Linked DNA regions of Homo sapiens: region 2 is linked to region 1. The links come from fine-mapping of genetic effects on gene expression. A gene starts in region 1. The other region holds a variant in brackets. All regions are shown on one strand. Distances are between the middles of the regions.

Region 1 (8,344 bases):
TACAGACACACCCATATATCTACATAAACAGTTTTATAGCACTTGAAAAAAAGGGTGCTTCAGCAATATACCCAGAAAGTACACCAGTTTATTGAAGCAAATATTAATAGTTCTACAAGGTATTTATGTTTTTGAATAACCCACTAGAAATCAAACTCCATAACTATTTTTTTACTTATTCAATATATTAATTATAGGAAGCATAATGGTTAAGAGCATGGGCTCTGGAGTGAAAAACCTGCGCCTAATCCTCTAATCTTAGCTGACATTTAATTAGCTGTGTACTCATGGGTAAATTTGCTTAACCTTTCTAAGCCTCAGTTTCCTCAACTGGAAAACTGAAAAATAACAGAATTGACTTGATATACTTCTTGTGAGGACTAACTAGATGATGAATGTAAAGTGCTTTGCCCAGGACCTGAAACTTAATTACTCAGTAATTTAGCTATTATTGCCATTATCACTGCCTACTTACTAATCTCTGGGCTCTCAACAAATGTGCCCCAAAGAAAGTTGGCAGTATCTCTCTCTCTCTCACACACACACACACACACACACACACAAACACACACTCATTCCTCACTCATAATTATCTATTCTTTGGAACATAGATTATAACAGATTAAAAACCCTGCTAAGAAAATGCCTTTTGTTTTTCTTTTTTGAAGAAAAACCTCTTATCCCAAATTGATATTTTAAATTATCCAAACATTCAGTGCAAATATTGAAGTCTAGAATTTAAAAACACAAATTGTTTTCTGTCTTCTAACGCTCTCTTACTCTTTAAAACAAAATTAGTTTGGTTGCCTAAACTCTGCAAAGAGGAGATACAATCAACTCAGAAAGAAAATGAACCCCCCTGCTTCCCACTGAGTACTCTTTAAGTGTTCAGACACAAAGGACACTATCTCATTTACGGCGACACGAGTGAGAACAAATTAATCCCAAGATTTATTGTGCATTTCTTTAAACTCTATTATAATGTGAAATTAACAAAGTTATAAAAGGTCCCTTTTCCCTACTATGCAATCATGCCTCAAGTAAGTCAAAGAAATGAATCTTTGAAGCTATTTTATTTCCTAAAACTTAATAATTTAAGCAGCTAACTTCTCTGGTCTAAATTATTTTACCAATTATTCATGTTCTATGCTCACTGGGCAACTGAAAGGATACAACGTTTACATACATTCATTTCAATAGTCAAATATGTCTAAACCAAGCTTATTTGCGTTACTTCCTTTTATAGAAAATCTCAGGTTCTCCTTAAAGGTGTTACTGTCTGAGTTCCTAGAGAACAAATCTCAGCTGCAGAATATATAATGTAATTTGAAAGTAAATCAATACTAGAAACAAATTATTTGATCATCATCTTATTATGAAAGATTAAACAGCCACAAATTTTATTTTACCAGGACTAAAATGCATTAAATTACATTTCACTGACATAAGATCAAAAGAACCTCATAAATACTATGCGATACTTTACCAGAGTGAGGTTACAAAGAGAAGTCAAACCGAAAAAAATCCCTGTAATTTTAAAACTCTCTAAAACTATCTCTAAAAGATAGTAATTTTAAAACTCTCTTGACATTTGATCCATTAAAAATAGAAGTTCATCACATAAAGAGAATCATTAAAGACTGATGGAAAACAAACTCCAAGGATTACAAATAATAAGTTCTTTTTTCCAAAATGCAATGTTACTTTTCAGCTGTCACAGATGACTAAGAATGTCCATACATTATACCTTCAACTATCTTTAAATTCAAAGATATTGAAATTATTCTTTCAAATTATTCTTAACGGCCTAAATTAAAACCTGACCATAGAGATATAAAATGTGCTTAAGTACCCCCTGCCAATACACAGTATTAGTTTTCTAATAAAATGTACAACGTTAAAACAAATATGCATATTTTATTAGCTTAAATTGGTAATTTATGAAAACAGAACCGGCTTCTCTCACACAGATTAAAAATAATGCAAAGGCGCTAGAATTTTATATAACATGTCAGTTTGGTCAAATGTACTGTAATGTCTAATCTCATGGGATTGGGGATTTTATGAATATGCCCAAAATTACATAATACTGGGGGAAGGGGAGATGGTTTAAAGCTTTTGAGAAATATTGTATGGTGAGTTAACAAACATAATTTTAAAAATATATGTCATTACAGAGTAAAACTTCAACAATAAGTCTAATTAGACAACAACAGAGTCAGCAATATCTCCAGACGCTGATTTCTCCAGTGTCACCAGACTATCCATTCCGCTAAAAAGTACTTTTAAATACGTGCGGCGCCCAGAATATCAAGTTTTCAAATCCAAATCCCTACCTTCTGCCGATCTGTTCCACTTTACTGTTGCATAAAAGCACTAAAATACACATTCTAAATTAATTAGAACTCCTATCTTCCTCGTAGAGTCCATTGTAAATACTTTTAGAAAGACATTTCAGTAAATCTAAGAAAAATGTCCAATAAATATACACTTTCCTTTCCAACATCCAGAATACTAAAGTATTTGTAAATATGCGCCCCCCTACCCCACAGTAGGGAACTTCAGCTTTATGAATTTTTTTTTCGTGCTAATGTAGTCTGAACATACTCTCCTACCTAATTGGAAATTTTAAGTGATTAAACATCATACAGCAGGTGACTAAACTGGGATGCTCAAGTAAAGCTACTTCGTTTCTAATAAAATCCAAGGATTATATAATAAGCTTTGACTTTTCAATAATTTTCTATTCTGTCAAAGGCAACAGAGACAACATCCATTTTACAAGAAAACATGGAGTTAATAAAATATATTTTCCCCCCAACTAAGAATTGCCTTCTCTTTTGTCAATATTACAAGACATTCATCTACTGACAAAGAGAAAAAATGAACAATTCACTTGCCTGTTAAGAAACTAAATTGGAAGCATTACCAGTCATAGGTTTAATTAAGTTGTTACTAGGGAAGAATATTTAAAGCAAAGGGATTATTTAAAGTTCACTGCCAGCCGCTAAATTTGGGGGAAACCGCCTGAACGAGATAGTCCCTATGTCACTTGCCTTCTTCCCCACCACCCACCCTGCACCAAACCCCCATTGTTCTATGTAAAAATTCACAGCTAATAATATCTAAATAGCAATTGCAACATTTATGTTGCAGATGATCACTATGGGGAACTCTCTCCAGAACCACATTCACTCGCTGCCTTCCTTTCCTCAAATAAAATACAAATTTGATAAAAAATCGATCACAAACTGGTGGGGGAAAGGATCACAGCCTTCCTTCTAGACCGATGGATGACACTCCAGAGGCGGGTGAGGAAATCCCCAGAAGGTTACCATAATAAATCGACCAAGGAAAAAAAAAAACAAAAAACATTTAACCCGGCGTTTTAGAACGAATTTTTTCATGAATCAGCTTTGAAATCCTTGAAAAGTATACAGCCCACGGTGCAGAGGCTCATCTTGCCTCTTACCACCAGAGCAGAACACAGACGCGGCACGCAGGATTTCTCGTGGGTTTGGATCCCTCGTACACCACTTCCTCCCCAAACCTGGCTGGCGGAGCCAGAGGCCGGCGTCGAGGAAGTCAGAGCCCGGCACCCCGGCGGCCCGCTCTCCCTCCGGGCTACCTGCCTCGGCCTGCGGGAGCGCCGCCCAGCGCGGACACCGGCCCAGACACACACACTCACCCATCTTTCCTCTTGGCTTTGTAGACGTGACCATAAGTGCCTCGGCCAACTTTGCAGCCCTCGTATTCAAACAGGTCCTCGACCCGCTCCCGCTCGCTGCTCAGCTTCACTTTAAAGTCATAGTCCATTGTCACAGCCTCTGAGGCCGGAGAGCTGGGTCGGGGGGCCGGGGGGCAGGGGTGGGGACCGGGGAAGCACGGGCAGCCGCAGCCCCCGGGAACCCGCCCGCTCTACGCCCGCCGGCCGCAGCACCAGCCCGACTGATGCGGCAAGAGCAGGAGGAGGCCCCGCGAAAGCGCCAGGGACATCCAGGGGGACGGCGGGGCAGAGGCCGGCCGGGGGTGGAGGAACGGGGAGGATCCCCCGGCGAAGGAGAGCCGAGGGACGAGGGCTGGGGGTGGGGAGCGGTGTCTCTGCCCTTGTCCCCGCGGGCTCCCTGGGCGCCGGCTCCGCCGCTCTCTCCGGCCGCGCGTTCTGCTCCTGCTGCGGCGGGAGCGGCGGGGCGGCCAGGCGGGCTCTCGTCCTCTCACACGCGCACTCACGCCTCACGCTCTCACACACACGCTCACACTCACTCACTCACTCACTCTCCCATACACTCAAACAGAAGGGCAGAGCCGCACAACAGCCGGTACCTCCTCAAAGAGAGGAGGAGGGAGGGCACTCGCGGAACACGGCCGCGGCTGTCGCAAAAACGTCGCGAAGCCTCGGGCTGCCTCCGGGCCACACTCTAGCCCGCTCCCGCGGTGGCTGGCCGCCCCTGCTGGCGCTGGCACCCTGAGGACCGTGTGGAGGGAGCAGGGGAGCCACTGCCCAAAGCTGCCGCCAAATGCACCACGTGGAACCAGCCCCAGCGGTGGCCGGGCCCCAGACTACAATACCCAGAATGCACAGGCCGCCGCCGCTGCCGCCCCTTCTACGACTCCGCCCCACACGGTGGGAATATGGGAGCGTTGCATGATGGGACTCGTAGTCTAGGGTGAAATTCGTTTCAATCATTTGGGGAAAATTTATTTTTATTTTTACAGCGATCTAACTAGAGTCTGATTTCAGCCACAAACTTGATCAAAGAGGTGCACGTGGGAAGGAGAGTCGTTTGCATTAGAAACACATTTTGTGCCACTCTGAACTCCAGATTTTAAAGGCCACTATCATCGATAAAAGCCGGTATGATATTTGTAAACAGCTCGCGGGCCAGCAGTTGGGGTACTCTTGGTGTTCACAATCTGATAAGGGCTGCACAATGATGTCAACATACTGACATTACAAGCACCAATAAAAGTGAATCAATGACCAGTGTCCAAGCTACTCCTAAACATTGTTACTCTTGTGACAGATGACCATCCAAACCTTTCCTATCCATATACAGGAAGTATTGAGTACAGTACAGCCTTCTGCGATACTACCTATAAGAACACCAGTTTCTAGCTATGATTACAGAAAGGATCTAAATCCATGGGAACTAGTTTGTTAATAATCTTAAGGTAGCAATATGTCCTGCTTCAGGAGTCCTGGTATCTTGATACTAATCTATCATTTTATCTTACCCCCCTTGTCTATTTTTAATTTTTGGTTTTCCAATTGTTACCATTTCCACTAAAGCTCCCCACTTCCCAAAGGGAATATGAACTTTGCAGTTTTAATGTGAACTTTTTAACACTTTTTTTCCCACCTTTCCTGTGATATTTATCAAATTCCTTTCATCTTTTATTTCCTCTACCTTGCTAGATCCTAAGTTGTTATAGGAAGTCATATTTGCATCTTCTGTAAAACCTAGTGTCATGCCTTGATAATGATGCACAGTAAACACTTGTTAAATTAATGAATGAATAAACATGTTTATCTCAAAAAGATCCATATACCAATGATGATGATGATGATATCATCTTGTGAAAAAGCCTCCAAAGGGCTTTCTCTTATATAATTTTCCTTGGAGAAAATTAGTGACTTCACCACTGTGTAAAATTAAATTGTTTTTACCTAGCATACTATATAAGTATTGAGTATTTTACTATACTGGGTTTGAATCCTGCATTGTCATTTACTAATGTGTTCTTGGAGCCTAGAATTTTTTCTTTGCAAAGTGCAAAGCACAAAACAAATGTAGGCTTTCATTAATGGCATATTATTTGTTTCCATTCAGTGATGAAAATTGGGTAACTCTCTAGCAGAACTGCTCATTTGCATCCTTAAAGAATTACATCATTTTCTGAATATGGATTTAAAAGATTCTTCCTTAGACAATGTATTTTGTATTTTTTGAGGGATGTGTCTTTTGTGCACATATTTACTCATGGATCTTGAGAAATCAAACTACCACACTGGAGGAAAAGTTGTGAAGAGGCATGGGACTCAGCTTGCCCCTACACTGTATCGGGTCCCCCTTCCCCACCTCCTGTACCAATTATACACACTATTCTGGAACACTGAAGGTCTCAGACCTTTTTTGTTTGTCTTTTTGTGTTTTTATTTTGAGACAGGGTCTGGCTATGTCACCCAGGCTGGAGTGCAGTGATGCGATCACAGCTTACTACAACCTTGAACTCCTGGGCTCAAACAATTCTCCTCCCCAGCCTCCTGAGTAGCTGGGACTACAGGCATGTGCCACTACACCCAGCTAAGTTTTTTTTTTTTTTTTTTTTTTGAGAGACGGAGTCTCGCTCTGTTGCCCAGGCTGGTCTTTAACTCCTGGGTTCAAGTGATCCTCCTGTCTCAACCTCCCAAAGTGCTGGGATTACAGGCATGAGCCACATACCTGGCCTCAGACTTTTAAAAATGTACTTTTATACACTGTTTTGGCTGGCTTCACTCTGGGTGAAGGTGAACTCTCCCTGAAGGAATTGAGTGTCCTCACTGTCAACTGAGTATCCTGAATGTCAGTCCTGACTGTCAGTCTTTTCCTGGGGGCAGGAAAAGAAGCTAACCTTGGACTAGGGAAGAGCAAGATCTGCTTTTCTCTTTGAAGCCAGGGTGAGAGTTAGAGGCCTAGACACTAGGTTGGAGGAATATGGTGGTAGGAGGTAAGCTGACCCTGTAAAATGGTATCAGGATGGGGAGCTGAGAAAGAGATAGCCACTAAGGGCCCCTTATAGGAGAGCATGGCTAATGCTAGGAACAGCAGCATCTAATATTTAGTTTTAAGTGTCTCCTTTTGTGTGTTCTTAAGGTTCTTAAGGGCTAAGATGCTTCCTCATACCATCTCTGACCTTTACAGTCCTACCCATCCCCCAAGTGCTTAATTTGGTCATGAAGTCTTTCCCAGTTCTTGCAACTAGATATGACCTTTCTTTATCATGAACCTCTACCCCAGCCCTGGCACCATTGCACTTTATTTGTAACTCATTATAGCTACCTTGTATTTTAATCATTTATTTTATGCGATTAAAAAAATCTGCCCCTTAATAAATTTAGTGACTGAGTTCCTGCCTTAATCATCTATATATCCCCTACAGTTCCAAGCACATATTGTTTGCGTAATTATATTTCATTAGAATGTGTTTCATTGGATTGATTTCAATAAATGTTGAAATGGACATTAATAATAATAAAGGTCTCCACCTGTCAGAGGACAGTCATTGTAAAACATTTAGTATCTTGCCTCAGTCTTGCCTCTAAAAAGGGCTTTTTATAGCTGCAAAAGGACTGAGTGCTTCATGATATATTAATGTAAAAGCCCAAGTGGCTCTTCTCATAGTTAATCACTGCAGTCTCTACAACTTTGACTTCCACTTTCTCACTCAGTATTAAGGCATGCTTTCAGTGGAAAGCATGTAACCTCTCATTCTACAGGTGGCACGTTCATCCCGCACATATTAACCATCTACATGTGAGCACAGTGTTCGACACAAGGAAGAACAAGTTAGATTAATCAATCCAAGAGCTTTTTTTTAATATTTCATTTTTTTCACTCTGTCTTTCTGGCCTGATTTTTAAAAAATTTTCAAAGAAACTATAGATGCAAAAAGTATCCTTACTAACTCTGCAAGCATCCAGAATATAATTTAGACCTTAGAAATAACCAGAATATAAAAAATACTTTCAAAAATATCTTACTCTTCTCCCCTTCACCATGTGGGTATCATTTGCCTTTGTGGACTCATTTCCTCCACACAACGGGAAACATGACCACCAATAGTTGCTGAATTTTACGTCAGACAATGGCTTTCATTAGCGAAGAATTGACTGTTTCTCAATTCTGGTTCTAAAAATCCCAAGAAGGGCTCTGGTATGGCTGAGTCAGGCCCGTCCTAGGCCAACTAAGTGTAGCCACAGGGACAGGACCATGCAAGAATATGAGAGCTCCTTTATTAGGGGGCATGAGGGAGATGGGGGTAGGGAGCTCACAGGAGGAAGAATGCCCTAAGTATTATAAAGGAAATAAAACAGGACAATGTGATAGAAAGTGAGACCAGGAGGAAATTCCTTTAGATTGGTAGACGGTCAAGGTTTCTCTAAGGAGACAATGCTTAAGCAGAGACCTGAAGGTTGAGAAACAAAATCTGCTGTGGATGAGGGAGCAGAGTAGTCCAGGCAGATTAAACAGACAGCAAGTGCAAAAGGCAAAGCTGGGAATGAAGGAACAGAAAGATGACAAGAATATAATGAGTAAGAGGTGAAATTGTGTGAGGTGAAGACAGAGAGGTAGACAGGGACCAG
Region 2 (8,344 bases), 220 kb before region 1:
GAAAAGCAAATTAAAGATTAAAGCCATTATGAGATACTAGTACTCACTCACCAGGATGTCTAAATAAAAATCATGGACAATAAGTGCTGGCAAGGATATGGAGCAATAGGAAGCCTCATAAATTGCTGATGGGAATGTATTAAAATGAGTGGCAAAAAGAGCAATTACTTTTGCGCCAACCTAGTAAGTTGATACAACCACTTTGGAAAACTTGTTGGCATGTTTACCTACAGCCGATTGTATGCATATTCTACGACTTAGCAGTTCCACTCCTATCTTAAGTGCATGCACTGTGCACCAAAAGACATGTGCAAAATTGTTTGGAGATGCACGATTTGTAATTGTCCAAACCTGGAAACCTATTTGTCCATCAAGATTTGAATAAGCCAGTAAAAGGTGGGATATTCTCACAATGGAATACTATTCATCTATGGTTCTCAAAAGTGTGGCATCAGCCAGCCTAGGCAACATGGTGAAACCCCGTCTCTACAAATAATACAAAAATTAGCCTGGAGTGGTGGTACACACCGATAGTCCCAGCTCCTCAGGAGGCTGAGGTGGGAGGATTGTTTGAGTCTGGGAGGTCAAGACTGCAATGAATCATGATTGCACCACTACACTCCAACCTGAGCAACAGAGCGAGACCCTGTCTTAAAAAATAAAGTGCGGGCCAGGCGCAGTGGCTCACTCCTGTCATCCCAGCACTTTGGGAGGCTGAGGCGGGCAGATCACGAGGTCAGGAGATCAAGACCATCCTGGCTAACATAGTGAAACCCCATCGCTACTAAAAATACAAAAAAATTAGCTGGGCATGGTGGCGGGTGCCTGTAGTCCCAGCTACTTGGGAGGCTGAGGCAGGAGAATGGCGTGAACCCAGGAGGCGGAGCGTGCAGTGAGCTGAGATTGTGCTGCTGCACTCCAGCCTGGGCGACAGAGTGAGACTCTATCTCAAATAAATAAATAAATAAATAAATAATAAAGTGCGGCATCAGTATCGCAGGACAATCTGTTAGCATACTCTGGAATTTTATCTCAGACCTCCTGGGTCAGAAACTCTGGGGGTGGGGCCAGCAATCTTGTGTTTTAGCCAGCCCTGCAGGTGACTTTGATGCGGGCTAAAGTTTGAGAACCTGCTGTACAGCAACAAGACTGAAGAAACTACAACTCCAAGCAAAAACATGAATCTCAGCCATAATGTTGAGCAAAAGATGTCAGACCCAAAAAAGTGCATGTTGGAAGATTCCATTTATACGGAGCTCAAAAACAGGCAGAACTGTTTTGTGCTGCTAGAAGTCAGTTATGGGTGAGGCCTGTGAAGCACCTAGAACAAAATGTAAGGGGCTAGACGTGCTTGACCTTGAGAGGGGAGGCCTCCTTACACTGTGCACCCCAGGCTCCTCAACCTTTCCCAACCTTGGTCAGAGTGGTGATTATTCTGGATGGTGTGGGCTAAAGACTTCACACATACTTGAAGGTGAGTGATCCAGGGTAATCCGTGAGGGCATCCAGGCATTACTATTGTTCTGTGTCTCCATCCGGGTGCTGTGTGCACCAGGGTGTTCAGTTCCTAAATATTCTTCAACCTGTACACTTACGGCTGGTGCACTTTTCTATATATAAGTATGGAATAATCTTTCAATAAAAGATTACATATCCAATGGGAATGATGCCCTCATTTCAGGATGAATGGCCTTGGAGTCATTGCTTTCATGCCATCATGGGTCGAGTGTCTGTGTGTGTGTGAGTGTGTGAGTGTGTGTGTGTGAGTGAGTGTGTGAGAGTGTGGGTGAGTGTGTGTGTGAGTGTGTGTGTGTGTTTTAATGGGCTTAGAAAATAGAAAAAAAAATTCAGGGTCAAATCTAGTAGATTATACATAAAAAAATTTTTTCTAAAAAATGACATGGGGTTTCCGATGTAGCTTAAATGGACTCTAAAGGCCTTTGCCAAGAGAAGGGAGTTCCAAGTGTGCTCTGAGTGTGGGAAAAGCTTTGGAATGAGAGTATAACTTCCCAAGGGGCTTCTCTGAGGGGCCCCTCCCTGAAGCCTGTGATTTCTGGCACAGGCACTAACAGATCAGCCAGTGAAGTGTCCCCATCCCGTACCACCTGCATTCTCAGAAAGTGGTGGTTTCTACTTGACTCCGTACTTCTGTTTAACTTCATGCCTTGGTGAGCTCTATGGATGGCTTGTTTTACCTGGTCTTTGAATGCAAAGGGGAATTGTCTCCCCAGGCCGTGCTGCGAGCAGCTGGGCTGGAGTCAGTGACAACACACAGAGGAAGCCAGATCTCGGGAATCCAAAGCATTCTGTGCAGACTCTGAAGGAAACAGGAACAGATAATTCTAGCAACTCCCGCCTGGATGTGGGGATGACTCTGATGGAGGAGAGGGCTGTTGGCCAGAACAAACCCCCGCTGGCTCCTGACACTGGCCCTGGAGCCAGGCAGCGGTTGATTTCTGAATAAAGTTGCCTCCGGAAGCAGAGTGACAAATAGCTCCCTAGCTCTGACTTTGAATAAAAAAGCATGAATGCCGCAGGAAAGCCCTGCAGCTTCCTGTGTGACGGAAGAGGGCTCAGCCCAGCCTGCCCGCTGCCCTCCCTAGGTTCTAACCTACCCTGAGGACAGTCCCCGCCCCTGACCGCCGCCCTGCGGACCCCGCTTCTGACCCTGCCGAGGTCAGCAGGGACGCGGTGACCCAGTGCTCCTGCACAGGAAATACAGTGACCTAACCAGGCCTGGCAGAAGGACCGGTCAATGTGGTGAGCAGCCAATGGAGAATAGCTCTGTCTCTCTCAGCATTACTTCACTGTCTAAACGCCCCTGGAATTCTATTGGATACCTAAGTATTTCAGCAAATGTGCTATCCCACTCTTCCTCTAAAGTCAGCGCCTGCTGTCATTCAGTTCAGCATCCAGGTGCTTACGTGAGGAATCAGCCGTAGTTGCTTTGTCTGCCAGTCTGTCTAGCAGGGACCACCTCCTTCCACCCCCGAAGCCTCAGCCTCACCCAAGCCCTGCCCCCTCCCTGGGGTGTGGCCACAGCCTTGTTCCCATCCTTGCCCCCTTGCCCCATCCCACCTCTCTTCCAGGAGAAGCCAGAGCCCGGCAGACACAGCAGCGGGATCACGGCCTTCCTGAGCCCAGCCCTCCTGAGCCCAGCCCTCCTAAGCCCAGCCCTGCAGCTCCTGAACCCTCTCCATTAACCATGGGTTTCTGATGCTTTGGCCTCTTGAGGCTCTTGAGGCTCTGCTGACCTTAGAGAGGCTGCCTCTCCCCATTTAGCCAGGTCCTAGAGAGAGCAAATGACTGAGTGCAAGCACCTTTCATATGCAAAGCAATTAAGCCAGAGCTCACACCCCGCTACACCACTATGCTCCTGGCCCCTGGCCCCTTGCCCTAATCACCCCAGGGCCAGGTACCAGACAAGTAGGGACTGTCCCATGCCCAGGGCCTGCAGAAATTACTCAGACCAGCCAATCCTAAAC[C/T]TGCTTACCCTGCCTTGCCTGTTCTTTCCCATGAAAATCAGAATCAACGCTCCCGCCCATGTTTCCCTCCACTCCCTCCCCCCCTTGCTTCCCCAGGGGGCCCCTACGGTGTGGAGCGCTCCCAGCTCACTTTTCAATGGCAGTCCGCTCCTGATCTGTTGGCCTTGCCATACCTGAATAATAATAAAACCTACATTCTAAAACATCCTCAGAGGGAAAGCCAAGGTCTTCATGCGGTCTAGGCTCTGCTGCCCACTCCCGGAGCCACTGGTCACATATGGTTATTGAGCATTTGAAATGTGGCTGGTCAAAACCGAGATGTGCTGTGAGTGTCAAATACACACTGGGTTTTGAAGACTTAACACAAAAGAAAGAAGAATGCAAAAAAGCTCATCCATTAGTTTTTATTATCAACTACATGTTGAAATAATAATATTGTAGATACATTGGGTCAAGTAAAACACATTGTTTCCTTGTTTGGGTTTTTTTTTTAGTACAGCTACTAGAAAATTGAAAATGACTCATGTGGCTCCCATTCTATTTTTTTTTTTTTTTTTCACAGAGTCTTGCTCTGTTGCCCAGGCTGGAGTACAATGGTGCGATTTTGGCTCACTGCAACCTCCGCCTCCTGGGTTAAAGCCATTCTCCTGCCTCAGCCTCCTGAGTAGCTTGGACTTCAGGCGCCTACCACCACACCCAGCTAATTTTTTTGTATTTTAGTAAGGATGGGGTTTCACCATGTTGCCCAGGCTGATCTCGAACTCCTGAGCTCAGGCAGTCTGCCCACCTCAGCCTCCCAAAGTGCTGGGATTACCGGCGTGAGCTACCGCGCCCAACCTCCCATTCTTTTTCCACTGGACACTGCTGGTCTAAGCATCCTTCTTGACCCACCCTGCTGCCTTTTTGTCTTCCTCTTCCCTTCTCTGTCTCTCTCACTCCATCTGCCACACGCTGCCTCCTTGCTATGCCTTGCATGCCCAGGCAGCCCGCTGTCTCAGGACCTCTGCCTGTGCCGTTCTCTCCAGCTGGAGTGAGCCTCCGGATTCCTGCAAAGCTGGCTGCCTCCCTTCCCTCTTGTCTTCGCCCTACTGTCACCTCCTCAGTGAAGCCGGCCCTGGCTTACCACTGTAAAGTATCAGCATCACCCAAATTCCTTGCTGTCTCCCTGCTTTATTCTTCGTGCTTAAATGTATCTCTAGCTAATATTTGCTCATTTATCATATGATCGATGTCTCCACCAGCACGAAAGCTCACAAAGGCAGGGATTTTTGCCTCTTTTGTTCTCTGCTGTATCCCCTGTGCCTAGAAAGAACAGTGCTTCACACACAGTCACACTCAATAAATATTTGTTGAATGAATGAATGCAGAATACAGGCTTTTAGCCTCAGGGTGCTCATTTCGAGTAAGAGAAGTCGAATATATGTGACAGATAGAAACAGTGCCAGAGGCATGGGGAAGCAGGTGAGCAGCCTTCAGGGAGTCGGGAACTGGGCCAGTGGGGCAGGCCAGCCGTGCCAGAGAGGCCCTCAGACCCACTCTGACCTGCTGCAGTCAGCAGAGGTAGGAGGAGGGTACAGCAGCTGCAAAAGTGAGAAGAGAGCATTTTCATTTTCTTAAAGCTTCCCAGAAAGTTTGTGGGACTTGCTTACTGAAATCAACCCTTGGTACTGTGGCTTATTTTTATGAGTGGAATTTGACGCAATGATGAAGAATTGGCCTGACTTGCAGGGCAAGTGGCCCAGAGGTTTCCTGTAGAGTCTCAGACTCCATCTCAGAACAATTGATTAAAATTTGCATTTTAACCACATTCCTGACAAATCCTGTGCACATTGCATGCCAAATTGTAGTGTGTGCCATGAACAGATGAACAAAAAGACAAAATGTGGTATATGCATACAATGGAATATTATAGGAAATAATTCCTCCTCCTCCTCCTCCTCCTCCTCCTCCTCCTTCTTCTTCTTCTTCTTCTTCTTCTTCTTCTCCTTCTCCTTCTCCTCCTTCTTCTTCTTCTGCCTTTTTTTTTGTGTATGTGTGTGAGACAGGGCCTTACTTTGTCACCCAGGCTGGAGTGCAGTGGTGAGATCACGGCTCACTGCAATCTCAACTTCCAAGGCTCAGGCGATCCTCCACCTTAGCCTCCTGAGTAGCTGGGAAGGAAATTCTGACACACACTAACCTTGAAGATACTGTGCTAAGTGAAATAACCAGATGCAAAAGACACCTTTTGTTCAATTCCGCTTAGATGATGGAATTAAGTAGGCAAATCCATAGCAACAGAAAGTAGAATGACAGTGGTCAGGAGCTGGAGGGGTTAGGGAGAGTGGAGGATTGCTGTTTCATGGATTCAGAATTTCAGTCTGGAGGACGAAAAGAATTCTGTGGATTGATGATGGTGGTGATGGTTGCACAACAGTGTGAATGTACTTAATGCCACTAAACTGAACACTTAAAAATGGGTAACATAGGAAGATATATATATATACACACACATAGATATATATATATACACACACACATAGATATATATATACATGTGTATATATATACACATAGATATATATACATGTATATATACACATAGATATATACATGTATATATATACACAGAGATATATATACATGTATATATATACACAGAGATATACATATATACATGTATATATATATACATATGCATGTATACATATGTACATAAATATATACATATGCATGTATACATGTGTATATAAATATATACATATGCATGTATACATGTGTATATAAATATATACATATGCATGTATACATGTGTATATAAATATATACATATGCATGTATACATGTGTATATAAATATATACATATGCATGTATACATGTGTATATAAATATATACATATGCATGTATACATGTGTATATAAATATATACGTATAAAAATATATGTGTGTATATATATACTTGTATATATATATATATATATATATTTTTTTTTTTTTTTTTTTTTGAGACAGAGTTTCATTCTTATTGCCCAGGCTGGTGCAATCTCGGCTCACTGCCACCTCCACCTCCTAAGTTGAAGCGATTCTCATGCCTCAGGTTCCCAAGTAGCTGAGTATAGGAATGCGCCACCATGCCCGGCTAATTTTGTATTTTTAGTAGAAACAGGGTTTCACCATGTTGGCCAGGCTGATCTCGAACTCCTGACCTCAGGTGATCGGCCCGCCTCGGCCTCCCAAAGTGCTGGGATTACAGGCGTGAGCCACTGCGCCTAGTCATGTTATGTATATTTTACCATGATAATAAAAAAAAAGTGTGCTCACAAGTTTCCTGTGCTGCGGCCTGAGAATCTGCATTGCTGAACAGGTTTCTGAGTGGTGCTGATGCTACTGGTCCCAGGGCCACTGCGTAGCCGACTCAGGTCAGTACTTCCCACTTCACATCATCGGGACCCAGCATCAGGCCAAGGCCAAACATCGTGTCTTCTGTCCCCCGAAGCTCAATCCTCTTGGTTAATACCAGCTTGGACAATAAACACCAGGAGCTCCTGTGCCCCACCCTCCACTGGGTGAGTGACCTCTCTTCCTTAAAGGCCCCGTTGAGTTAACCTGACTTCAGCAGCACCTCCACCGGAGCATCCACACAGTGATTTCTCACCCACATGCAAGGGAGTATTCCCTGGGTGGAGGTTTGCAGAGCTTACGATATAGAATGCTCATACAGATCAATGAAGAATGAGAAATACCCTAATGGGAAAACGGCTAAGCGTAGTAATAAAGAAGCATTTAATAAAATAAGAAATACAGGCTGGACACAGCGACTTATGCCTGGAATCCCAGCACTTTGGGAGGCCAAGGTGGGAGGATCACTTGAAGCCAAGAGTTTGAGACCAGCCGGGCAACAAAAAGTAAAAAAAAAAAAAGTTAAATAATTTTTTTACTCTACAAATGTAAAAAATTAGCCAGGCATGATGGCACATGTCTGTAGTCCCAGCTACTTGGGAGGCTGAGGCAGGAGGATCACTTGATCCCAGGAGGTCAAGGCTGCAGTAAGCCATGATTGTGCCACTGCATTTCAGCCTGGGCAACAGAGTGAGACCTTGTCTCAAAAAAATGGAAAAGAAAAAAGAAAAAGAAAAGAAAAGAAAGATGGCCAAGAAATGCCAAAAATGAAAACTCTAATTAGTAATCAAACATGGAAGAAAATAATAAGAATGTATTTTTTTCATATAGTGGGTTGGAAAACAAAATAAAAAGAATTGTAACCAGTGCCAACTTCGGTGTGAAGGAAATGATGCCGATTCTCAGATTAAAGGGACCCTAGATCAGTACATTTGTGGAAAAATTTGGTAATATGTATCAAGAGCCTTCAAAAGGTACATACTCTTCATATAATTCCGCTTCCAGCAGTTTGCTCCTAGGAAACAAGGGGCATGCGCACAAACATACATGCATGAGATTATTCACCGCAATGTTGCTTATGGTCGCAAAAAGAATCCTAGCTTCCTAGATAGTTGGTAAAATGTATTATATCTATGTAAAAGAATATTAAACAGCCATTTTAAATGATTCTGTGGATGATCATTCTGTCTTTACTTATTTGGAATAATGTTTAGCATGTTTGAGCTGAAAAAGCAGTTTAAAGAGCCATTTGTTGCCATCTTTATGTCCAGCAGTACCCAGTGTTTAGCCCCCATTTAAAAGTAAAAACATACAGTAGTTGGTGTTCTGTTCCTGGGTTAATTCTCTGAGGGTAATGTCCTCCAACTGCTTCCATGTTGCTGCATAGGACATGATTTCTTTCTTTTTTGTGGCTGGGTAGTATTCCATGGTGTATATGTACCACATTTTCTTTATCCAATCCACCATTGATGGGCATCT

Direction of the effects. Positions count from the first base shown, and alleles are read on the strand shown. Sizes are in standard deviations (SD) of each study's normalised expression.
As copies of T replace C in region 2, the expression in left ventricle of the gene that starts at base 4,329 in region 1 goes down (small effect, 0.22 SD a copy in GTEx).

What was found. PIP is the estimated chance that this variant, and not a neighbour inherited with it, causes the effect.
Region 2: its variant is the best candidate, but not a certain one, in a credible set for the expression of CDK8 in left ventricle (GTEx, PIP 0.60).

What each region holds. Positions count from the first base shown.
Region 1 is chr13:26,250,114-26,258,457 of GRCh38, reverse strand. It overlaps CDK8 (cyclin dependent kinase 8), which reads right to left and starts at 4,329. Exons shown (of 13, transcript NM_001260.3): 1 at 3,689-4,329. The coding sequence starts at 3,816. RefSeq lists a silencer at 3,725-4,324.
Region 2 is chr13:26,470,621-26,478,964 of GRCh38, reverse strand. No RefSeq gene overlaps it. Among named protein-coding and RNA genes, the nearest start is that of WASF3, 83 kb to the left of the region's middle. RefSeq lists an enhancer at 2,459-2,753. The variant C/T (reference allele first, on the strand shown) is at 3,486.